Regions from separate parts of the Homo sapiens genome. Here all the other regions are linked to region 4. Evidence: fine-mapped expression QTL. A gene starts in region 4. Each other region holds a variant in brackets. All regions are shown on one strand. Distances are from middle to middle.

The links. PIP is the estimated chance that this variant, and not a neighbour inherited with it, causes the effect.
Region 1: its variant is fine-mapped to the expression of PSAP in whole blood (INTERVAL, PIP 0.94).
Region 2: its variant is fine-mapped to the expression of PSAP in whole blood (TOPMed, PIP above 0.99).
Region 3: its variant is fine-mapped to the expression of PSAP in whole blood (TOPMed, PIP above 0.99).

What each region holds. Positions count from the first base shown.
Region 1 is chr10:71,794,935-71,799,934 of GRCh38, forward strand. It overlaps CDH23 (cadherin related 23), which reads left to right. Exons shown (of 70, transcript NM_022124.6): 49 at 2,170-2,286; 50 at 3,420-3,644; 51 at 4,177-4,346; 52 at 4,558-4,695. Among named protein-coding and RNA genes, the nearest start is that of MIR7152, 6.7 kb to the left of the region's middle. The variant A/C (reference allele first, on the strand shown) is at 2,001.
Region 2 is chr10:71,887,735-71,895,214 of GRCh38, forward strand. No RefSeq gene overlaps it. Among named protein-coding and RNA genes, the nearest start is that of LINC03139, 13 kb to the left of the region's middle. RefSeq lists a silencer at 1,344-1,433. The variant T/A (reference allele first, on the strand shown) is at 3,247.
Region 3 is chr10:71,814,170-71,819,169 of GRCh38, forward strand. It overlaps CDH23 (cadherin related 23), which reads left to right. Exons shown (of 70, transcript NM_022124.6): 70 at 783-1,778. The coding sequence ends at 1,109. PSAP (prosaposin) reads right to left here. Exons shown (of 14, transcript NM_002778.4): 12 at 4,862-4,942; 13 at 4,448-4,555; 14 at 2,129-3,307. The coding sequence ends at 3,272. Among named protein-coding and RNA genes, the nearest start is that of MIR7152, 26 kb to the left of the region's middle. The variant C/T (reference allele first, on the strand shown) is at 2,381.
Region 4 is chr10:71,848,987-71,855,971 of GRCh38, forward strand. PSAP (prosaposin) reads right to left here and starts at 2,265. Exons shown (of 14, transcript NM_002778.4): 1 at 2,196-2,265. The coding sequence starts at 2,235. RefSeq lists enhancers at 524-1,023, 1,415-1,945, 1,946-2,476.

The sequences.
Region 1 (5,000 bases), 55 kb before region 4:
GGTGTGCATCATGGGGGTACCAGCCAGCAGTGCCAGCGGTGAGAAGCAATAAATTAGACACACACAGAGCAATGTAGATGGATCCTAATAATAAGTATTTACTGAAAAGGATAATAAATGGGATGAGATATATGCCACAGCACCATTTCCATAAATGTAAAATACATACAAAATAATACATGATTTTCAGAAATACTTTTATTAACAAAAAATATACTTCAATACATTACAATGACTGCCTGAGGGGAGAAGGGAAGGAGAGATGAGTATGGGAATGAAAGGGAGTAGACGCACACATAAAACAAGAGAAGTGCCAGTGGTCATAGTGTGCAGCGAGCCAAAGAACATGATAAACTCAATCTGCATTTGAGGCCCAAAGGGAAACAGAAGAAGGAAAAACCATGAGCACTAGGAGAAGTTAGATAGAACCAGCTACATCCCAGGTTAGCAAAATTCCTGGCTGCATGGGTTGGTCAGGACCATGGAGAGCTGCTCCACGTCCCTACTCAACTTGAGGCTCTGCTCAATCCCCTACTGCTTTTCTCTTTCCTGTTCCCCCTTCCTCCAGCTGACTCTCTTCTCTATTTTTCTTTCCAGTGTCTTCTCTGCCCCCTCCTCCTCAGCCCTCCACTCCTCCCTTGCCCACTTTGCTACCTTTTCTTCTTGCCAGAGCCTCAGCCCCTGAGCTCTCCACTCCAAATGGGCTTCCACTTGCTCCCCTGGTTTCCTTCCCAGTGCCTCTTCCCCTCCCCACTCCCTGTTTCCACCCCTCCCTCCCTCCTCCCACCCCGTCAGCTCTGAGTCCCCACCATCCTCCCTGCCCTGCTCTGCTCCATCCCTGCTGCACCCTGAACTAACTGATGTTAACCCTCTTCTCTCTTCCTCATGGCTGGCAGGCCCACAGGTTTGAGCTCTGTTTCTCTGTCACTTCCCACCTCATCTCTTCTCTGCCTCACCCCATTGCCTTCCTCCATGCCCACCACACCCCCACCACCCTTCCTGTCCTGTGGGGCCTGGGCCAAGGCCGTGGCCCAGCCTTTGCAGACTGAATGCAGCCGCCCTCTCCCCATCCTCGCTCCCCAGCCTGGGGGACAGGGAGCGAGAGTAGGAAGAGGAGGAGGAGGAGGAGGAGGAGGCGGCCCAGGGTAAGTGACTACCCCATGGCTGGGGACCCACGGAAGACAGAAGCCCAGCAGGGGGATCTGCCAAGGGGGAAGGGAATCTCAGATACCCCTGTACCTGAGAGGGAGAGGAGGTCTCACTCTGGGATGAAGCCAATGGGAGGAGAAGCCACCAGGCCCTCTAACAGGCAGGAACAAGAAAGGTCCCAAGAAACGCAGCACTGAGGTCAGCCAAACTAGGTCTGTCCAGTCCCCGCCCATGCTTCTGGGGGGTTCCTCTCTGATTTGGGGAGCAGGCAGGGACTCTGGGAGGCAGTGGGTAGAACAGAAGGAAACCCCTTGCTAGGACTGCCATGGAACCAATGCTCCTGTCCCACAATCAGCCCATGTCACTCCCTATTTAATCAAGACAAAGGGATGGGCCTGAAGTATCCAGACGGTCCCACCACTGTCCCCTCCAGGGAACCCCTCAGGGCTTTTCAGCTACCATGACTTTCCTTTAAACTTGATCTCCCTAGAATCTAAGCATTTTTTAAATGGTGATAAAATACACATAACGAAATTTACCATTTTAGCCACTTTTTAATTGTAGAGTCCAGTAGTGTTAAGTACATTTGCATTGTTAAGGAATACAGCAGTTTTTAAACAAGCAGTTACATAGCTTCTGTGTGCCACGCACTGTTCTAAGTACTTTACAAATGGAAACTCATTTTGTTTTTCTAATCCTCAAAATAGTAGGGTATTGAGAAAAGGATGGGTTGACAGTCGGTAGTGTAATTATCTAGTTTTACAAATGTGGACACAGAGGTGCAGAGAGGTGACATAACTTCCCCAACATCACCTGCTTAGTAAGCATCATGGGAGGGGCAGAGCCACGTG[A/C]CCCAAGCTTATGAGGAGGCTGTGGGCCCACCCCAGCCACAAGTCCCAGATTCTACTGGGGACCGTCATCCTTTGTGGGGATTGGGAGGGTTTGGCCAGGAGCACCCCTGGGAAGGGCAGATTTTAGGGGGTTCTTCTCAGGCTGAACCTGGCCTGGTCTGGTCCACAGGATCTGTAATGGTGAAGTCCCCCATGAATCGGGAGCTGGTTGCCACCTATGAGGTCACTCTCTCAGTGATTGACAATGCCAGCGACCTACCAGAGCGCTCTGTCAGTGTGCCAAATGGTAAGGTTCCCTGCAGACATCTCTCATTGGTCACTCAGAGCCAATCAGGGCAGGGGGCAGGTGGGGAACAGGCACTGGTCTGTCCCCAGGGAGGGAGCAACAAGACCCAGTTGCTCTGGGGGCCAGGAGTCAGGCAACACAAGAGGCATGAAAGGTGGCAGCCACCGTGAGGCCCAGGGTGGTGATGGCTACATAGAGCTCAGCAGTGGAGGATCCAGAAGCTCAGAATTGTGTGTGATCTGAACCCCCAGGCTGAGAGTAGGAAGGAGGCTTGGTAGAGCCTGGAACAGATTGAGAAAAAATGGTTAGACAGAGGCTTAGGTTCAGCCAGCAGAACTGGTAACCAGGGTGTGGGTAGGATGTGAGATGGGAACCCTATGATCTTATAGGAAGCCACAGGGTTAGCACAAAGGAAGCAAAGAATGAGGGGAGGTAACCTGAGGCCACAGACACTGCTTTGGGGGTGCAGGCACTTACGGTGGAGAACGGAGGGGCCCAGTGTTACCTTCTGCCAATCGGGCCCAGGCCATCCTGCCTGCAGCCTGAGGCGTGGGCTGGGAGGGGGCTGCCAGAGGGGTGGATTTTGTGTGGGCAGAGCGAGAGTTGAGTGGGGGAAGTGGGGATGGGGTGGCCTCAAGTTGCCTCAGCCATGAGGTACAGACAGCTGCTATAGGGGAAGCCAGGCCTGGCAGATGATGACTGCTTATCTTCACAGCCCAGAAGCCCACATTTTCCGGAAGGAAGGGCAGACTTGGTCATCTCTTCCATGTCAGAGGCTCAGATGGTTAAGGGCCCAGGCCGGTTACATAGAGGGGATACATACAGCTCAGACAGGATCTAGGGTCTTAAAGATTATCTTGCCCTTTCTCATTGAGCAGTTTAGGAAACCGGGGCACAGGAAGGGCCGAGGGCTCCACCAGGGTCACCTAGCCCTTCCTCTTATGGAACAGCAAGTGAGCACACCACTGGAAAGCCTCCTGTGCTGCAGCCTGAGGGTCAGGTCAATCCTCAGGCAGCCTCTGGGGGGCTGTGGGATGCTGCCATGCTCACCCGGCTTGGCTGAGGCTAAGGAAGGCCTGGCCCAGCCACACTAGTGTCCTTCCCCTCTCCCTCACTCCCTGCCTCCACCACAGCCAAGCTGACTGTCAACGTCCTGGACGTCAATGACAATACGCCCCAGTTCAAGCCCTTTGGGATCACCTACTACATGGAGCGGATCCTGGAGGGGGCCACCCCTGGGACCACACTCATTGCTGTGGCAGCCGTGGACCCTGACAAGGGCCTTAATGGGCTGGTCACCTACACCCTGCTGGACCTGGTGCCCCCAGGGTATGTCCAGCTGGAGGACTCCTCGGCAGGTAGGTTAGAAATCTGTCAGAGGAGGGCTGGGGGACATATATCTCTGCTTGCTTAGTCCCCAAGAGAGACCACAGCCCCTCTGTGGCTCCTCAGTGGACTGGGCCAGATCCAAGATGGCCAGCATTCCATGCCAGATTCCAGATGCCCAAACCAGGGGAAGGGACAGAGTGCTTACTCCTGGGTTGGGATGGAAGCCTCTTGATGTCTGCCGGAAACCTGGGATACCCCACCACCCAAGCTCCTACTATTAGTACCACCGAGGGAGCAGGAAGGCCAAGAAGGAGGTGTCTCAGGTCCTGGGCTAGTTGATGCTCATTCCTGTGACTGGGAGAAGCTTTTTCACCCTCCATAAGAAAAACTGGACACCAGTCCCTCCCTGCCGTGTGCCCTGCAACTGGGTGGTGCTGCCTGACCACCCTCCTTCAAGTGACCACAGCTGCCCCTCGGAGTCCAGGTCTTTCTCCTCATACTTTGGAGAGCTGCCATGAATGAGGAGTGGCCAAAATGGCAGTGGGAGCCTCTGTGTCTTAGGGAAGGTCATTGCCAACCGGACAGTGGACTACGAGGAGGTGCACTGGCTCAACTTTACCGTGAGGGCCTCAGACAACGGGTCCCCGCCCCGGGCAGCTGAGATCCCTGTCTACCTGGAAATCGTGGACATCAATGACAACAACCCCATCTTTGACCAGCCCTCCTACCAGGTGGGTGGCCAGGCCACAGGCTGGGTCCAGGACCTGCGCCCATTCCTTGGGGTCTTTGGGCATCTTCCTCTCCCACCCTGCCAGCCTCTAAGCCCCCTGGGAGTGCCCAGCCCACGAGCAGCTTGATGCCTGCATCAGTGAGTTCTAGGGCTGTGCTCGGGCTCTGGGACTGACCTTGGCCTACTCTCTCTCCCTGCCCCCTGGGCTCCAGGAGGCTGTCTTTGAGGATGTGCCTGTGGGCACAATCATCCTGACAGTCACTGCCACTGATGCTGACTCAGGCAACTTTGCACTCATTGAGTACAGCCTTGGAGATGGAGAGAGCAAGTTTGCCATCAACCCCACCACGGTGAGCAGTGATGGAGGGCCTGGAATTTGGAAGTGGGAAGGACCCAGGGTCAGAGACTGAGCAGCCACCAAAAGTATTGTAGTAATCCCTCTGGGTCTTGTCGCCTGGACATCTGCATCCCCAGAGGTTCTTTAGCCAAGTCAGCAAACCCTGTTCTCAGAGTCCCAGACATTTGGTAGACTGTGGCCTTTCTGTCTCAACAGATGTTTAAGGAAGTGGCCAAGTCTTTTGGAATGAGCCCTTTGTGGGACAACATCTGAGATGTGTCCTCTCCACACTAAAAAAGCATGATTGAAGTCCATGGG
Region 2 (7,480 bases), 39 kb after region 4:
ACATATACATATATCTTTACCCCATGATCTCCAATCTGAAGACAGAGAAATTTGCATGAAGGAGGCACACTCAGGGTGGTCTGAGGGCAGAGCCCTGGCGTGGGCAGTGGGAGTTCCTGCTCCAGGCCAGCTTTGCACCTCGCCTGCTGGGAGGGCTCAGGCAGAGCATCCACCTGGGCTTCTGGGAGCCTCTGCTTCCTTCTTCAAGGCCTGTGGCTTTCAAAATCTTAATATGGAATCCCACCATGATAGCCCAGTGTTTCTCAATCCTGGCTGCCCTTTTGAAAAACTGGAGGAACTTTAAAAATATATACCTCTTCTCAGTCCCCAGAGATACTGACTCAATGCCTGACTTAAAAAGCTGCTCAGGCGGGCAAAGTGGCTCACACGTGTAATCTCAACCCTTTAGGAGACTGAGGTAGGAGGATCGTTTGAGCCCAGTAGTTCAGGACCAGCCTGGGCAACATGGCGAGACCCTGTCTCTACATAAATAATAAAAAATATTAGCCGGGTGTGATGGTCCACGCCTATGATCCTAGCTATTCGGGAAGCTGAGGAGGGAGGATCGCTTGAGCCCAGGAGGTCAAGGCTGCAGTGAGCCAGATCGTGCCACTGTGTTCCAGCGTGGGCAACAGCAAAACTCTTGTCTCAAATAAATAAATAAAAAATAAAAAACAAAACAACAACAACAAAAGAAGAAAAAGGAGGAGGAGGAGAGAAAGAAAGAAGGAAGAAAAAGAGAAAGAAAATTAGAATGGGAAGAATTTCAGTTTTATAACTGTAACTGATTATTTTAAACGTATTTTTATTGTAAAAATAAAACCCGGATACAGAATCCAATGGTTCTGATGTACGGCTTAACTAATTACTACAAAGTGAACTGCCTCCGAGACCAAGAAAAAGAACTTTGCCAGCCACAGCAGAAGTCTCTCCACGCGCCCCACCCCAGTCACTCCTTCCTCTTCCATAAGTAGTCATCCTTATTCTGACTCACAGGACGCATTAATTGCGTTTTTAACAGCAAGTCCGCTGGAGGTGGGAGGCGCTCGGGGAAGCTTCTAGGGCCGTCAGGGCCCATTCCCTCCGCTAACACCCCTCTCTCCCCAACCCTCAGGTTGCGCAAGACCTCTCCAGCCCGGCGAACCCGTGGGGCTCAGCAGTCCTCCTCCACGCTCAAGATGCAGTTTGATGCAATCCTAGAGGACGCAGTTTCAAGTTTCTCGAGATAGAGAAGCGAAAGAGGATCCGAAACCGCGCTTCACATCTGAATCTGATTTCAGATTCCTCCGGAATATAGCGGAAGCGCGGGGTTGAGGGCGCAGACCGGGGCAGAGGAGAGGCGCGCAGGTCTGCTGGGACGCAGCGCGGGGCGAGCAGTGGCGCACTCGTGGCCTGACGCATCCGCGAGACTGCACGCGGCCAGGCGGGGGCACGAACGGGTTGGGGCATGCGCGGGCAGCGTCGAGTGGGTCCCTTGGGGGTGGGGGTGGGGGGCAGTCGAACTAGGGAGAGAGTCTGTGGAAGGGCTCAGTTGTCACTTCACACCTTTCCCCGCTGTTTATTGATCTTTAACTCTCTCTGTGTGTCCTCTCTCTCTCTCTCTCTCCCTCTCCTCTCTCTGTTTCTCTCTCTCTATCCCTTCCTGTCCACCCTTTGGGGCCATCTCTTCCAAGAAACAACCGTCTCTCCCAGCCCATGGGAAATTGTCTCTCCTGCGAACTTATCCAACCTGAGGGGGTCTCATCCATGCCGATACCGGCTGCTTGTGGAACCTTGTAAGAGTTCTTCCCTCTCCCTGTAAAATGGAGATAAGCTGTGTGGTGCTGAGGCCAGCGCCGGGCACACTCACCCTCACCTTCTTCCTGAGAGAGGAAAGAGCCTGGAGACCTGGATTCTACCTCTGCCCCCAACCCCTACCACAGGGTAGCCCTGCCACCACCTGCTGGTTCTTTGGGCAAGTCACTCTTTTATTGGACTTCCATTTCCTCAGCTCTAAAATGAAGGAGGTGAGCCCAGTGTGGTGGCACCTGTAGTTCCAGCTACCTGCAGGCTGAGGCAGGAGGATCGTTTGAGCCCGGGGGGCAGAGGTTAGAGTGAGCGGAGATCTTGCCACTGCACCCCAGCCTGGGCAACAGAGCAAGACCCTGTCTTTAAAAAAAAAAGTGATTAAAAAATAAAAATAAAATGAAGGAGTTAAACAAACTCAGGAATTTTGTATGAATGGCATAAATGAGCACATTAGAAGGAAGCAACTTTCCTTCTCTCTTTTTTTCAATCCTGTACAGGCCAGCTTCCCCTCTGCCCTCTGCTCCCCTCCTCCCTCCCTACCATCCTCCAGCCCCCCAAAGCCCTCCCAATTTGAGCCTCCTTTTGGAAAACATCTCTGAGTATGGTACCGTTGGTATCGGTGACTAAGAGGCTCCAAGGATACCCTTCTGGGGGATTTCCAAAATAATGAGGAAGTCCATTTCCAAAATCATGGGAAGTCCCAACTGGGCCTCCCAGACAGTTGGCCACTGAGTCTGTCCCCTAAAGGATCTGCTTGACTTGCACAGTCTTAAAGGCATCATGTCTGGTTTTTAAACATAATTTCAGTTAGTAGCCAACAGTTCAGATCAAGGGATCACACGGCCTGTTTGACCTGTTCTTGCAGGGTCATGCATGCTCCACTGAGCCATGGGAAGTGTCCACACCCAGCCATGGGAGCCCTGTGGGATCTGAAACTGACATTTCTGCTTTAGGTGCCTTAAGCTGAAGAAATGCATAGTAGCGGGAATTGGAGTGCAAGTGAGTGCAGTAGGGGAAGTATTTTGCCATAAGAAACCCTAAGCCTCTATGGACAAGAAATTCTCCAGGGGCAGACTGGCCTTGACCCCAGAAATGTCACATTGGACTCGGCCTTGGTTTTCCTCATCTATACAATGGTCAATCAGACTAGTGGTTTGTTTTTTGTTTGTTTGTTTGTTTGTTTTCTCTGTCGCCCAGGCTGGAGTACAGTAGTGCAATCTCGGCTCACTGCAACCTCTGCCTCCTGGGTTCAAGCAATTATCCTGCCTCAGCCTCCCAAGTAGCTGGGACTACAGGTGCACGCCACCACATCCAGCTGATTTTTGTAATTTTAGTAGAGATGAGGTTTCACCATATTGGTCAGGCTGGTCTCAAACTCCTGACCTCAGGTGATTCACCTGCCTTGGCCTCTCAAAGTGCTGGGAATACAGGCGTGAGCTACCACACCGGGCTCAGATT[T/A]GTGATCTTTAAGGGTCCTGTGAACTCAGCACTCTAGACATTTTAGGGCCTGTGCACTTCCGCGGTAATGGTTTCTTGTTTTGTCCTCACTCGGAGGGCACACTCCTCAGGCTAGTGGCATGGGCCATTGTCCTAGAGTCCCTGGGGCCCGGCCCTACCATGAATTCTGCGTCTCTCCCTTCAGCCCTTGTCCCTCCCTCCGTGCCATGGCTTGGCACCGTTCTTGTCTTTGCAACCCTCCACAGGCGCCTCCTCCTCTGACCCTTCAAACCTTCCTGCCCTCAAACTCTGTCTCCCTACACCTCCCTGCCTTCCACTCTATGTTTCTGCCTTCTCCTTCAGCCCACAGATATTACTGACCATGGTTGCCAGCCCTATGTTAGGCCTGGGAATTCAAGAGAGAATTAGAGCCCTCTGTGGACTCCCAGCTCTACTAGGGAGAGAGACCCACAAATAGGGATAGAGAGGGGTAAATGCTTCAGTGGGTGAGTACAGGGCCTGCAAGGCCACTCAGCTCAGACTGAGGGGGTCAGAGAGAGCTTCCTGGAGGAGGCAGTATCTGAAGTGAGAAGCGGAGGGAAGTCCACCAGGCACACACAGCAGGTCGGCGAGAGTGCCGCAGGCTGAGGATGCGGCATATGTGAAGGCCCAAGGAAAAGCAGAGCACGCAGCATGCAGGCCCTGGAGGGGTGAGGCTGCACCTGGGGAGGTCTCATCCCAAGGCTGACAGCAGGTTTAGGGTCTGGAAACGCCACATGCCCTGCTGTCTCCCTGGCTGTTCAACTCCTTCCAGGCCTGACATTCACCAGCTCCTTGAAGACAAGATCATGCAGATACTTTTCAGCACACACATCTGGTCTCCCCGGCAAGTGCCCAGCTCTGGGCCTGTACCCTCCCAGCAGCACCACACAAGATGGCCGACCTGAGCTCATCAACTGCTCACTGGGGTCCCTCCCCTGACCCTAACCCTGCTTCAGTCACCCAGTAAGGGATCCCTGGCATGCAACATGTCCTTGGCTCCAGAGGGGTTAGATCCTTGGGGCTCCAGCAGGCAGAGCTGGAGCCTCGTGGCGTTTTGAGTACTCATAGGGACGGTTTGGGTTGTTGCAGGGATGTGGGAGGCACTGCTGGTGTTTGGGCCAGAGACCAGGACGGCCGAACATCCTGCAATGCTCAGAGCCGCCCTTTGGAACAACAACAACAAAAAAACTGTCCAAAGTATTCTGATTTTCAAATGTCCCTTCTGTAGCGTCCCCTAGTTTGTCCCACTTTCTTTCCGTGTCCTGACCGAAAATCTAGAGTGCCTTGACTGTTTCATGACCCAACCAGCTGCAGGGCTTCCCAGCAGGCTTGAACCCAAACCAGGGCCTCGAACATTCCCAGGCACTGATAAAGAAGTCTAGGTTATTGCCCAAAACCCTGAACAAAACTGGCCCCAGGCTTGAGCCCAATTCCTTAAAGCCTCAGAAAAATTCCACACCCTGACCTCATGGCTGTGGACACACCTAGGTGGACCTCCCTTTCTCTCCTGGCTGCCTGAGGATGTGCACGGCCCTGTGGAAGTGAGCTCCCCTAATAAAAGCCTGGACTCATCACCCCGGCGCTTCGTGCTTCTCTCTTTGGAATCCCAGCTGGCCCCCCTTCAGGATGATTCAGGCACTCCCTTGTGGGAACTCCTCTGCCACCACTTTTGGGGCAACCCTAGCTGAGGGCTGGGGGTGAGACAAGACACTTTCACATATTCGTGTCACTGAAAAACCAAACTCCATTTCACACCTAAACATGAGGTATTTTTGAATATTTTATTTTATTTTATTTTTTATTTATTTTATTGTATTTTTTGAGACGGAGTTTTGCTCTTGTTACCCAGGCTGGAGTGCAATTGCACAATCTCGGCTCACTGCAAACTCCGCCTCCCGGGTTCAAGCGATTCTCCTGCCTCAGCCTTCCAAGTAGCTGGGATTACAGGCATGCGCCACCACGCCTGACTAATTTTGTATTTCCAGTAGAGATGGGGTTTCACCATGTTGGTCAGGCTGGTCTTGAACTCCTGACCTCAGGTGATCCACCCACCTCGGCCTCCCAAAGTGCTGAGATTACAGGCACCCAGCCTATTTTTTATTTTTGAGACAGAGTCCCACTTTGTTGCCAGGCTGGAGTGCAGTGGCACAATCTCGGCTCGCTGCAACCTTCTCTTCCAGGGTTCAAGTGATTCTCGTGCCTCAGCCTCCCGAGTAGCTGGAACTACAGGCGTGCACCACCATGCCCAGCTAATTTTTGTATATTCAGTACAGGCGGGGTTTCACCATGTTGCCCAGTCTGGTCTTGAATTCCTGACCTCAGGTTATCCACCTGGCTCGACCTCCCAAAGTGCTGAGATTACAGGTGTGAGCCACTGCACCCAGCCTTTTTGCATATTTTAAAACATACTCTGAGAACACAAATGAATGGAAGATTGGACTTTGTTTTGTAGGGAACTTCGCCAAGAGTTTAACCATTTCAGAGAATCACAGCACTGATAGCGGCTTCTCTCCCAGGTTCAGGTCACCAAAACAGCATCCTCCACCATCGGCGTTGGTGGCTGGGTATCTGTGATGCTTCCCATGCAATGTGAGCAGCTGCCCACTGAGTCCCGGAGTCCTAAGACCCTTCCCTCACAATCCTAAGACAGTATTGCCTTTTCACTGTGATGGCATTGGTGACATAAAAGCCACTGTGGGCAGGGTGCAGCGGCTCGCACCTGTAATCCCAGCACTTTGGGAGGGTGAGGCGGGCAGATAGCTTGAGCCGCAGAGTTTGCCCAGACCAGCCTAGGCAACATGGCAAGACCCCGTCTCTACAAGTAATAATAATAATAATAATAATAATAATAATAAAATTATCTGGGCATGGTGGCACGCATCTATAGTCCCAGCTACATGGGAGGCTTAGGTGGGAGAATTACTTGTGCTCGGGTGGTAGAGGCTGCAGTGAGCCGTGATCGTGCCGTTGCACTCCAGCCTCAAAAAAAAAAAAAAAAAAAAAAGCCACTATGGGTGAAACTGCTGGAACTTCAGGAAGCAAGGCAGTGGCCACAGACTAGGCAGGTCTCTGTGCACTCCCCTAGATAAGCACTTGTGGGGACAAAATATGCCTGTGTCACTTAAGTACATACCCTTTTGATCTCCTGTGTGATGAAGCAGGGATGCACACAGAGCGCCTGCTCCAGAGCAGGGGACTGGCTCGCAGAAACAACTTGTCAGAGGTGGAGCCACGCGAGCCTCTGGTCCAGGGAACACAGTTTATCTTATTTTTTAAATTAATTAATTAATTTATTTATTTATTTATTTTTGAGATGGAGTCTTGCTCTGTCACCCAGGCTGGAGTGCAATGGCTCGATCTTGGCTCACTGCAACCTCCGCTTCCTGGGTTCAAGCAATTCTCCTGCCTCAGCCTCCTGAGTAGCTGGGATCACAGGCACACACCACCAGGCTGGGTAATTTTTGTATTTTTAGTAAAGATGGGGGGTGTCACCATGTTGGTCAGGCTGGTCTCGAACTCCTGACCTCGTGATCTGCTTGCCTCTGTCTCCCAAAGTGCTGGGATTACAGGCGTGAGCCACTGCGCCCAGCCGAGAACACTGTTTATACGGGAAAGAACGACGAACAGACACATGATGGGTATTCAGATCTGGGCATTTGGCAGACAGACATTTTCTCATAAATGAGCAAAGTGAGCCTGTCCCTTCAAGAAACTGAAGCATTTGTTGCCAATGATAAAGTTGGAACTTGGAGCTTTCAAGGGAAAATTAGAATTTTGGAAAATTTGTGTACACCACCACAAGCTTGACAACTTCTCAATATTTAAAGATTTTTCTGATGCGATGGATGGCAGTGCTAACAAATGCTATTTTTTGACACTGTTCAGTGACATGTCATCTTTTGGGAGATGTATGTGATTTAATGGGTACAAAATTTCAAAGAGGCCACATGATGCTGCACATCACATGTAGGTAAAACAGCCATTCACGGTACAAGATAGGCCAGGCACAGTGGCTCATGCCTGCAATCCTAGCACCTTGGGAGGCTGAGGCAGGCAGATCACTTGAGGTCAGGAGTTCGAGACCAGCCTGGCCAACATGGTGAAATCCTAGCTCTACTAAAAACAGAAAAATTAGCCAAGCATGGTGGCATGTGTCTGAAATCCCAGCTACTCAGGAGTCTGAGGTGGGAGACTCACTTGAACCCAGGAGGTG
Region 3 (5,000 bases), 36 kb before region 4:
TCTGCTTGAGGCCAATTTGGCAACAAACCCAGATACCACAGTTGCATCCCAGGATGTTTATAGAGCACCAAAGTTAATACATAAAATTAAAGATTCTCAGCCAGATGTGGTGGCACACGCCCATAGTCCCAGCTACTCAGGAAACTGAAATGGGAGGATCACTTGAGCCCAGGAGTCCGAGGCTGCACTGAGCTTTGATTACGTTGCTGCATTCCAGCCTGGGCAACAGAGAGAAACCCTGTCTCTAAATAAATAAAGGGCAGGTGCGGTGGCTCACACTTGTAATCCCAGCACTTTGGGAGGCTGAGGCTGGTGGATCATCTGAGGTCAGGAGTTCCAGACCAGCCTGGCCAACATGGCGTGCCTGTAATCCCACCTACGTGGGAGGCTGAGGCCGGAGAATCACTTGAAGTCAGGAGGTGGAGATTGCAGTGAGCCAAAATCGCGCCACTGCGAGACTCTGTCTACACACACATACACACACACACACACAATTTTCACAAGAAGCCGATACACACACACACAATTTTCACAAGAAGCCGATACACACACACACACACACACACAGATTTTCACAAGAAGCCAATCCTCCCAAGAACCCATCTGCAGCAACTTAAGCATTCATGATTCCCCTTTGCAGGCAGTTTGAGAAACAGAGTCTGACAGGCCTGCTGCGGTAGGAGCCCAAGGTTCAGCCACATAGCCAGTGGGTCTCTGGGGCCATCCACCTGCTCACCCCTTGGGCATGGCCCTGAGCATGTGGGGGTCCCGGCCTCTTGCAGCTGATACAGACTGAGCTGGACGAGGAGCCAGGAGACCACAGCCCAGGGCAGGGTAGCCTGCGCTTCCGCCACAAGCCACCAGTGGAGCTCAAGGGGCCCGATGGGATCCATGTGGTGCACGGCAGCACGGGCACGCTGCTGGCCACCGACCTCAACAGCCTGCCCGAGGAAGACCAGAAGGGCCTGGGCCGCTCGCTGGAGACGCTGACCGCTGCCGAGGCCACTGCCTTCGAGCGCAACGCCCGCACAGAATCCGCCAAATCCACACCCCTGCACAAACTTCGCGACGTGATCATGGAGACCCCCCTGGAGATCACAGAGCTGTGACTAGACAGGGAAGCCTTGTGGGTGTGAGCAGCACCCATCCACCGTCCCCTCCCAGGGAGCAAGGGCAGGGACAGGGCCGGTCGGGGGGGACCCTCCAAGGCCAGGCCTTGGGGACAACCTTGGCTTGGCCCTGGCAGCCCGCATCAGCTGCTCAGATCCCACTTTTGCCAGACGCTCATTCAGCATCTGACCTCTACCTTCATAAGATCTGTTATTTTTATAAGAAAACCAAACAAAAATGTTAAGCATCTAAGGACAAGGTAAGGAGGGTCACTGGGGCCCAAGAGTCTGGGGACCAGCTTGGCTCAGGCTGAGCTGAAAGAGGCCAAACAGGCCCTCCTCCCTCCCAGCTCCACCCCGCAAGCACCATCCCCTCCGGCTAAGCAGGCGCAAGGGAGGCCCAGCGCGGACATCCCCTGCTGGCCGGACACCCGACTCCAGTCCAAGTCTCGCTACATTTCCGCCACATCCCTCTCTGCTGGACGTCCAGGTGGAGGTGGCATCCCCACGTGGACAAGAAAGTCAATGTCAATGAACAAGCATTCTCTCCATTTCACTGGCTTCCCAAATGTGTGCCCAGCTTATAAACAGAAGTGACTGATGTTCCCTCCGGTTTTGAATGTGGAGTGTTTGTGTGTGTTCCTTTTTTAAATTAAGTTATTCCCTCAATAGTTTCCCCTTGGTTTTGTTTAACTGGTACTCACTACAAGTTTCTGGAATGGTTTGTTTAAAAATCAAGGCAACTCTCAAGGAACTGGCAACGTGCTCTGACTCTGGCCTCTAGGGAGCAGGGACAGGGGCAGGTGAAGAGCAGAGCCGACCTTCAGGTGCGCCTGACCTACTGCTGGCCCTGAGTCTTGGGGAGGATGAGGTGGGATCTTCCTTTATCCACTTTGCTTTCATTCTCTGGCCAAGATGGGTCATGGGAGTGCTGGGCCCCAAAGGTGTCATGGGCTCAGAGCTCATCAGAGAGGAACAAACTCTTCCAGCTGAAGGGTCACAGAAACATTAGGCCCAGATCTGGCTAACAGAATTTTATTGTTAAATCACAGAAACTTTAGTGCAAAACAAAAATCACGAAGTCCATTTAATAGCAACTTCATGTCCTGCTGGCTTTGCTTGCTGTCTCCTGGCAACCAGAAGTGGACAGAAGCGTGGGTGCCCAAGTGGGCCACAGACAGCTTCCAACCCCCACACCCCAGCATCCAATCCACACCCAGCAGACCCTTCGGCATGCCGCCCTCTACCAGGAAGCCAGAGGCCTAGGAGCT[C/T]GCCATCCATATTTATTTGAAAAGGTCAAAAGGAGCATCTATGAGACAAGGGAGGGGTGCAGGCTGAAGCAGCGCCTCAACAGCCAGGGACATGTAGGCAACACGAGCAGGCACAGCGCGGCCACCACTGTCCACACGCTCACACAAGCCAGGCCCGCAGGGCCTTCGGAGAGCTAGCAGGTTACATTCAGGCAGATGGCCCTCTTCCCACCCAAACCCACAGAACCCCAAACAAGGCATCACCAGGAAAGACACGGGAAAGCCAAATCACAGTTGAACCAGGGACAGAGAACCCTTGGCCCCACTGATGTCCCAAGCCACCAGCAGCTGCTTCCAAAATCCCTATGCTATTACAGTGGGAATTACATCATTTAAAAAGCCTGATTATTCCAGGCTTCTAATCTTTCATATAAAACTGCCTTTGTTTTGCTGCTTTGTTCAACTGAGAGGCCCAGGAAAGCGGGGAGGGTCCCTGATCAGGGCAGGAGGCCACCTCAGAAGCCCAGGCCCACCAGTGCCCAAGCACATGTCAGGGCTCAGAACAAGGCCTCAACCAAGAGGGTTGATGGCCTCCAGTCAAGAAACTGTGGCTCATGCCAGCAGAGCTCTCTCCTCCTCCAGCAGGCGCCATGCAAGGGCAGGCTAAAAGACCTCCAGTGCATCAACATCCATCTAGCAGAGAGAAAAGGGGCACTGAAGCAGCTATGTCTGCCAGGGGCTAGGGGCTCCCTTGCAGACAGCAATGCTACAATAAAGGACACAGAAATGGGGGAGGTGGGGGAGCCCTATTTTTATAACAAAGTCAAACAGATCTGTGCGTTCATTCCCCCAGACACACAAGTAGAAAAAAACCAATGCTGTGGTTTCTGCCAAGATGGAATATTCCTCCTCCTAGTTCCACACATGGCGTTTGCAATGCTCGACAGCCTGGTAGGAGAGAGGAAGCTGAGTTTAGTCTTCGGATGAAAAACTCCGTTCCCGGCCCATCAATGTATCAGATATCACCCCAAAACAGGACCTGTTCTCTTGTCCTAGGTCAGCTGGATGGCACCAGATGCTGAAGACCCAGGACAGGATCTCACTTAAAAACAGGGAACACGTGGCCATCAGAGTTTTGGGAACTTCTAAGGCACGAGTCCAGAGCAGCAGATGCCTGCAGCAGTTTGCAGATGAGTACCCACGCAGGCAGGGCTCAGGACCCTTCATCTACCTGCACCCGGCACCCAGCGTCCTGCTAGCAGCCTGCACACTAACTCCCAGGCAGAACCTCCTTGCCTGAGTTAGGCTACACACCAGCTCGGGCCTTGAGAAGCAGGCCCACATTTCCCCAGGACAGCAGCAGAACCAGCTGTGGGGTGGGGCTGGCGGTGGAGATGGGCTGGAGCCTAGCTGGAGGAAAGAGCTGGACATGGCCAGAATGGGGGCCCCCTGCCCCTCCCTGCAGTGGTCCGAAATGACACAACCGCCACTGACATGGTCACAGGGAAGCCCGGTGAGGAAGGAAAAGTTGCACAAAGCAACATTAAGTAACAGGGACCGAACCAAACATCCCCACCCAGGGAAGCAGCACAAGTCACCCAACTGGTGGCTGCCAGGCCAGGCCAGGGCCACAGTGCCCTAGGGCTGCTGGGCAGGGGCCAGTTCTCAGGGCCTTGAGTGAGGACTCGGGCCCGGCTTCAGCAAGGGCAAACATGTTCCCGGGGGACAGGACCTGGGCAAAGCTCTGGGCAATGAATCCCACAGACCTTGTACAATCCCTGGAGTGACCTTGTACAAGTCTGACACTGTCACAAGGGAAATGAAGACAAAAGCAACAAAGCAGAAGCAAAAAAATACTAAAAAAAATAAATAAATAAAATCCACCCCACCCTTCACTACAAGAGTGTAGTTCACCCTGTCTTTTCTAGGGGACCATGAGTAAGCCTAACCACCTCTCTGGGCCTCAGCTTTCTGATAACATAAAAGCAGGGTGGAGAGTTGATCACTGGGTTCCCATTAAAGCAGGATTCTCACACAGGCTACCCCAGGGCAAGACAGGCTGGTGACACTGTCTGCTGAGCTACTCACATTGCACTGGGCTGCTGTCTCTGTGTTCTGGCACCAGTAGCTTGGGCCCCATATACACTTCTCAGTTCCCAACAAGGGCTTATGGGCCGAGGGGCAGGCTCCAATTTTCTATATGGTGAGAAAAGGAAAGAAGAAAGGGGGAGAATGAGAGCTGCCCGATGTATCGCTTTCAAAACTAAGAAAACAGTTTCCAGAAGGAGCTAGGATCACAGCTCCACCACGCTCTTTCAGAACATCAGGGTTGCTGAGGAAAGCGATGGGGCTTGGGGGGCTGGCTCCCTACCTTCTTGGCTCTCCCGCAGCAGAACCCAGAGACTCCACCCCACGGCCAAGTCTCAGAGCAACCCTTCCGGGTCTCTGCAGCCCCCCAGGTTACAGCTGCCCGAGAGGACCACACCACCCAGTGAGGCTCACCAAGCACACGAAGGAAGGATCCATCACCTCCACCAGGATCTCGATCAGCACGGGCTCGTACTCTGCCACAAACTGATCACACTATAAAGGAAAGTGGGGACACAGGTCCAGCTCTGGGGGTGTCCGAGCATAGTGGGGC
Region 4 (6,985 bases):
GTGGATTTTATATTTCCCGAGACACGATTGAGTCCCTTTTGGGTGATGTGAATGAATCAGAACTCTTAAGGGTCTTGTGAGGAGTGACTCAACGTCAACAAGAACAATGGATAATGTAAAAAGAAAGAAAAAAAATTGCCCTGAATCAGTATAAAAAATTTAGAGACCAGCATTAGTTTATTATACAGACCATGGAATAACTGCAGTATAAGCTTGAGTATAAAATCAAAATGATTTTTTTATAAGCAGATCATCTTTCATTGTGTACAAGTAAAACAAATTTAAGAGCTTCGTATAGGGTCAAGATACATTCTTGAGAGCTGCTGAAAGCTAACTCATTTCTTCGGTTTTGCATCAACCCTGTCATCCACTTTGTTACTTTTTATTAAAATTTGGGTAGCTAGGTTAAAAATGGCAGCCAGCCCTTAAACTACATATAGTTACTAAAAAACAGACATTGTGGTGGGGGCTGGGTGCGGTGTCTCACGCCTGTAATCCCAGAACTTTGGGAGGCTGAGGCGGGAGAATGGCTTGAACCCGGAAGGCGGAGGTTGCAGTTAGCCGAGACTACGCCATTGCACCACTCCGGCCTGGGCAACAACAGCGAAACTCCGTCTCAAAAAACAAACAAACAAACAAAACAAACAAACAAAAAAAAAACGGCCAATAGCGTGCAAGACTTTCTTTTCTCTTTTTCTTTTTTTCACAGGTGGGGTCTTGCTATGTTGCCCAGGCTGGTCTCCAACTCCTAGGCTCAAGCGATCCTCCCACCTCGGTGTCCCAATGTGCTGGGATTACAGGCATAAGCCACCGCACCCAGATGCAAGACATTTCAAAGCAAGTGAAATGAGGACCCCATGGCAAAATAACTGGACCAGAAAACCCTATATCGCCTTCAATACCTATGAGAATTAAGCTCCGATTTTTTTTAGCTTGCCCAAATTCCTATCTAAGGGGTGTAGGAATCATACCCTACAAACCATAAACTCTCATCAGATGGGTTTTATTTGACCCCATATATCGTGACTTACTTTCCAATCTGACTCTGGCATAACATTTTATAAGACAAGGAAAAAAAAATCAAAATATCTAACCCCAAAATATATTTCCTTGCCATACCTTGAAATTGCCCTGCAAAGTCTCTTGTGGGAAAAATCCACATTCTATAGAGAATCCCCTTTCCCCTATGTTTTCCTTCCTTCCTCTCCAGATCCAGGAGATAATCAACTAAGAGCCAGTCACCCTTTCATTTCCATAGAAATATTTTACAACGTGCTCGCTCTCTTAGTCGGCTACCTGAGAGCTTCCTCTGCACAATAAAACTTGGTCTCCACAATCCTTTATCTTAACTTGAATACTTTCTTTCTATTGATTCTAGGTTTTCAGATAAACTCAACCAATTATCAACTAGAAAATGTTTAAATTTACCTATGGCCTGGAAGCCCCCCGCCGCTTTGAGTTGTTTCGCCCTTCTGAACCAAACCAACGTATTTCTTAAATGTATTTGATTGATGTCTCGTGCCTCCCGAAAATATGTAAAACCCAGCTGTATCCCAACCACCTTAGGCACATGTTCTCAGGACCTCCTGAGGGCTGTGTCACGGGCCATGGTCACTCATATTTGCCTCAGAATAAATCTCAAAATATTTTTACAGAGTTTGACTCGTTTTGTCAACACCTAGAATCCAGAGTAAATACATATGCAAACGTCAATATAGATGATACACATGTGCTTCCTGCAGCTTCGCTACCCTTACAAACAGGCAACTGAAGCCAACGGCCAAAGTGTCCTGCGGGACGGGGCTCCAGCCCACCTCGATCACGTGCGCCCAGCACAGGCACAACACAGCTGCCCAAGGGGTCACCCTACAAGACTCACCCACCCCCACAGTGGGAAGCGCAGCCTGAGGGAAGGCCTCGGGGCCCCAGCCGCGCAGGAACCCACTCGAGCCCCGAAGGAGATGCTGCCCAGGGCCTGGGCCGTCCTCCCGGGGGCATTTTCGCAGCCCGCCCCCCGCAGCCCCCAGCCGCCCAGAGAAAGCCAGAGAAAGCCAGCGAACGCGCCTGCGCAGTGCGCGCGCCCCCTTGCCAACTAGGGCAGGGGGAGCAGAGGGGCCAGGCCCGGCACAGCCCATTCTGGGGCAGATGGACGCTGCGAGGCACCTCCTCCCCAGGATGAGGGTCCCAGGGCTTACCCGCGCCCAGGAGGCTGGCCAGGAGGAAGAGGGCGTACATAGCGCCGTCTGACTCCGCAGTCTGCAATGCGGAGCGTCAGCTGATCCCCCGCAGATATAAATCTGCCCTGCCCCAAAGCCGTCCAGAGCGCAGGCGCTAACCCCGCCCCATCCGGGCCTGCCCGAGCTCAACAGCGCCCTGACTCAGCGCCTCTGAGGGCGCCTGCGCGAAGGGGAGGCCAATAGGAGGGGGCAATGGGAGGGGCGAAAGGAAGGGCTATGGGGAGGAGTGAGGAAGAACTTGGAGAAAGGGAAGGGAAAGGTCATAAAAGAAAAGCCCTACTAATTGAATAGGTCAGAGATTATATATGTAAAATACCTTTTAAATCTCCACATTGTTGGCCGGCCGCGGTGGCTGACGCCTGTAATCCCAACACTTGGGAGGCCGAGGCGGGCGGAGGGTTCAAGACTAGCCTGGGCAACGTGGTGAAACCCCATCTCTACAAAAAAAAAAATACAAAAAAATTAGCCCATTGTAGTAGCGGGTTTCACATAGAATAGCTTGGGGTTTCACATAGAATAAGTAGTCGTGTAACAGGGTACAGGGCTCAGTCCTGGCCAGGGGCACGTGGGGGCAGGTGGTGGCACCTGGTCAAAGGCAAGTCTGGGCTGGGCATGCTGGCTCACTCCTGTAATCCTAACACTTTGGGAGGCCGAGGCGGGCGGATCATGAGGTCAGGAGTTCAAGACCAGCCTGGCCAATATGGTGAAACCCTGTCTCTACTAAAAATACAAAAATTAGTCAGGCGTGGTGGCGCTCGCCTGTGGTTCCAGCTATTTCAGGAGGCAGAGGCAGGAAAATTGCTTAAACCCGGGAGGTGGAGGTTGCCGTGAGTCAAGATCGCACTACTGCACTGCAGCCTGGACCACAGAGCGAGAGAGATTCCCATCACCAAAAAAAAAAAAACAAAAAACTTTTAAGCCTCACATTGTGGTACCGTTAAAGATGTAATACCATTCCTCACCCATCATAAGAGATCATAAGAGTCACAACCAACACTCCTGTAACGAGACAGCTTAAGAGAAAAGCATAACAAATTTATGTAATCAACGTTTTATGTGACATGGAAGCCTTCAGAAATTAAGACCCAAAGACCCTCTGCCTGTGGCTGCCCCTGCCAGGACCTGAACAGAGAATGATGATGACCCTCTCCAGAAGGATAAGAACCTGCCAACCGCAAGGCAGGGAAAGGAGGGGAATCTTAGCCCCTTAGGGCAGGCACTTAGAGGTCATTTACCTGTAGGGACATTGAGCCTAGGAGAGGGCAAGACGTTTATCCAAGGTCACACAACAGGTAGAGATAGAACCTGGCCCGAAGCCAGGTTTCCTGACCCAGGAAGGGCAAACCTACAGTTCCTCCAACTTCCTCCAATCTGCAATCCGCTCTGGAGAACAACCCCAGGGACTAAGGCCTCAGAACCTTCAGTTCTGCTCCCCTGCAATCTCCCTAAGTGCCCCCAGCCCCCACCACAGCTCTGACTTCCTCTGGGGAGCCAGATGGGGAAGTGTGCCCCATGCACCACAGTGGGCCATGTGAGGCAGCTGAGTGAGTTGGGACAAGATGTGGTCTCAACTGGACGCCTCACAGGTCGGCCTCAGTGGCCAGATGGAGACTTCGTGGCTGCTCCACCTTTGGGCTTCCCAAGGCCAGGCAGAAGCGTGGGGCAGACCACACAACAACTGGTTAAAAGCAAGGGAGCTAGCCGGGCGCGGTGGCTCACGCCTGTAATCCCAGCACTTTGGGAGGCCGAGGCAGGCAGATCACGAGGTCAGGAGATCGAGACCATCCTGGCTAACAGGGTGAAACCCCGTCTCTACTAAAAATACAAAAAATTAGCCGCACGATGTGGCGGGCGCCTGTAGTCCCAGCTACTCGGGAGGCTGAGGCAGGAGAATGGCGTGAACCCGGGAGGCGGAGCTTGCAGTGAGCCGAGATCGTGCCACTGCACTCCAGCCTGGGCAACAACAGCGAAACTCCGTCTCAAAAAAAAAACAAACAAAAAAAGCAAGGGAGCTGGGGCTCTAGGACAAATCCCCCATCCTTCAGCTCCTTGCAGATGGAGGAGCAAAGCATCCCAGTGCTCCATGCAGAGGTTACAGGACCCCAAGCCAAAAGGACGCTCAGAGACCTCAGATCATCCCCTCTCATCTTATAGAGCTACTGACATCTCAGGGCTGGTTAACAACAGAGCCTGAACCAGGACTTGTTTTTTTTGTTTTGTTTTGTTTTGTTTTGTTTTGTTTTTTGTTTGGAGATGGAGGCTCACTCTATCACCCAGGCTGGAGTGCAATGGTGCGATCTCAGCTCACTGCCACTTCTACCTCCCAGGTTCAAGCAATTCTCCTGCCTCAGCCTCCAGAGTAGCTGGGATAACAGGTGCACGCCACCACACCTGGCTAGTTTTCTTGTATTTTTTGGTAGAGACAGGATTTCACCATGTTGACCAGGCTGGTCTCAAACTCTGACCTGAAGTGATCTGCCTGCCTTGGCCTCCCAAAGTGCTGGGATTACAGGTGTGAGCCACCACACCCCTCCTTTTTTTTTTTTTTAAATATTCCTCCTTCATACCTAGAGGAATATGTCAGTGTTTTTGAGAGAAACTTTTGCTGCCTTTCATCTCCTCACCTGTAACTCAACAGTAATATGCTGCTTCATCCGCCTCGTCCTGAACCCCATGAGGACAGAATTTTAACAAAGAATATAAAAGCAATAAGTAGATTATTATTAATTTTTTTACCTTGTCAGTAGACGCTTAAATCCTCTTAAAAAAAAAAAAAAAAAACCTTCTGAACCATCTGCGTGTAGGCAACAAGAGCTGTGAAGCTCCTCAAACCCTCTGGCTCTCTTATGCCTTTCCTAGCTATGTACCCTCAGGGAAATACTCCAGAAGTGAAGGAATATTTTGTCCGAAGTGTTCACAGAAGGGCCCTTTAGAAACATGGAAGCTGGAAAGATCCCAAGTGCTGAACAATGAAGAGATGACTGTGGAAACTGGCTGGACAGAGCAACGGTACTGAAGCAGCTTTGAAACAGGAGGAGGAGGGAGCAAGGGCTAGGCTGCAGCAAGTCTTCCAGGAACGTGGGTCCCAAGAAACATGGGCAGAGTGAGAGGCCAAACCCCATCTGCTAGTAAGCCCTGCTGCTGACTTCCCAGAGAGGATGGCAGAACTGGTGGAGAGCTTCTAGATCCTGGATCCCATCGGGCGCAGTGGCTCACACCTGTAATCCCAGCAATTTGGGAGGTCGAGGCGGGCAGACCACTTGAGGTCAGGAGATCGAGACCAGCCTGGCCAACATGGTGAAACCCCATCTCTACTAAAAATACAAAAATTAGCTGGGTGTATTGGCATGCGCCTGTAATCCTAGCTACCTGGGAGGCTAAGGTATGAGAATCGCTTGAACCCAGGAGGCAGAGGTTGCAGTGAGCTGAGATCGCACCATTGCACTGTAGCCTGGATGACAGAGCGAGACTCTCTCAAAAAAAAAAAAAACCCCAAAAACAAACAAAAAAAGATCCTGCAGCCTGCCGCACCCCAAAGAGAGGATGCACGGGCAGCCATGGCCCTCCACCCTGTCCCTCTCCCTCCCACAAGTGCAGGATTTCAGCCAGGAGGGGAACAGAGAATTGGAAGTAGGGGGGAAATTCTGACTTTGGATTAACTCATCTTGCATTATTTCACTCATGGAAATGTCCACATTGCAATTTTTAAAAAACAAAATTAATATAGGAAATTTTAAAAGAGAAAAGAAAATCCCTTCCACTACCACCCTCTGGGAGCTCAAGTCTTCAAGGAACTGAAAAGATATTTTTCCTTAGAAATGTGAGCCACGCTTAAGGTTTCTCAATGGCCTTCCAGTTCTGGATCTCAGTTCTGCATGAGGCCCCAATTTTCATGTCTGAGATCTCTTGAAATCCCCACCTGTCAGACCCTTTTAATAATTTTCCAGCCGGGCATGGTGGCTCATGCCTGTAATCCCAGCACTTTGGGAGGCCAAGGTGAGAGGATCACTTGAGCCCAGGAGTTGGAGACTATCCTGGGCAACATGACGAAACCCTGTCTTTACAAAAAAATGCAAAAATTAGCCAGGTGTGGCGACACAGGTCTGTGATCCCAGCTACTCCAGAGGCTATGGGACGGGAGGACGGCTTGAGCCCAAGAGGTTGAGGCTGCAGTGGTGCACCTCTGCTTGTCAGCCGGGGCAACGGAGCAAGACCCCATCTCAAATAATAATAATGATGTTCCCTGTGGCCCCAGATGGCCTCCATCTGTTACTTTTTCTACAACTGAAAGTTCCGGCCAAGACAGCCAAGGAGATAAGACATATCTACCATTGAGGCCCAGCCCACCTGCTTGGCCCCAAGGCTCCACTCCAGTGCCCTAAACAGCAACCCTGGAGCCCCCTAATGCCCTGGAAGCCTCCCTTGACCCCTCACCCTGTCTCAAACAATGACAGGTTCTCTCCCTCCAGCATCTTCCTACTCGAGACCTCTGGCTTCAGACCCTCTAGCCTGCACTTGTCCTTGTGCCTGGAATGAGACCTCAGGTGTCACTCAAGGCAGGCTCAGGCTGTCCCAGGGACACCTCTCCCATCACCCACCAATTCCCAACCTCTGACTTCTCCTCCTATACCCCCACCTCCCCTGGACTGATGGAGCACTCAACAGTGCAGCCAAGCTCACCAAGCCCTCTGTGCTTCTCAGCACCTATTTAGCCTCCCCTGTGGCAGAGTCTGCTACACCCTCTAATA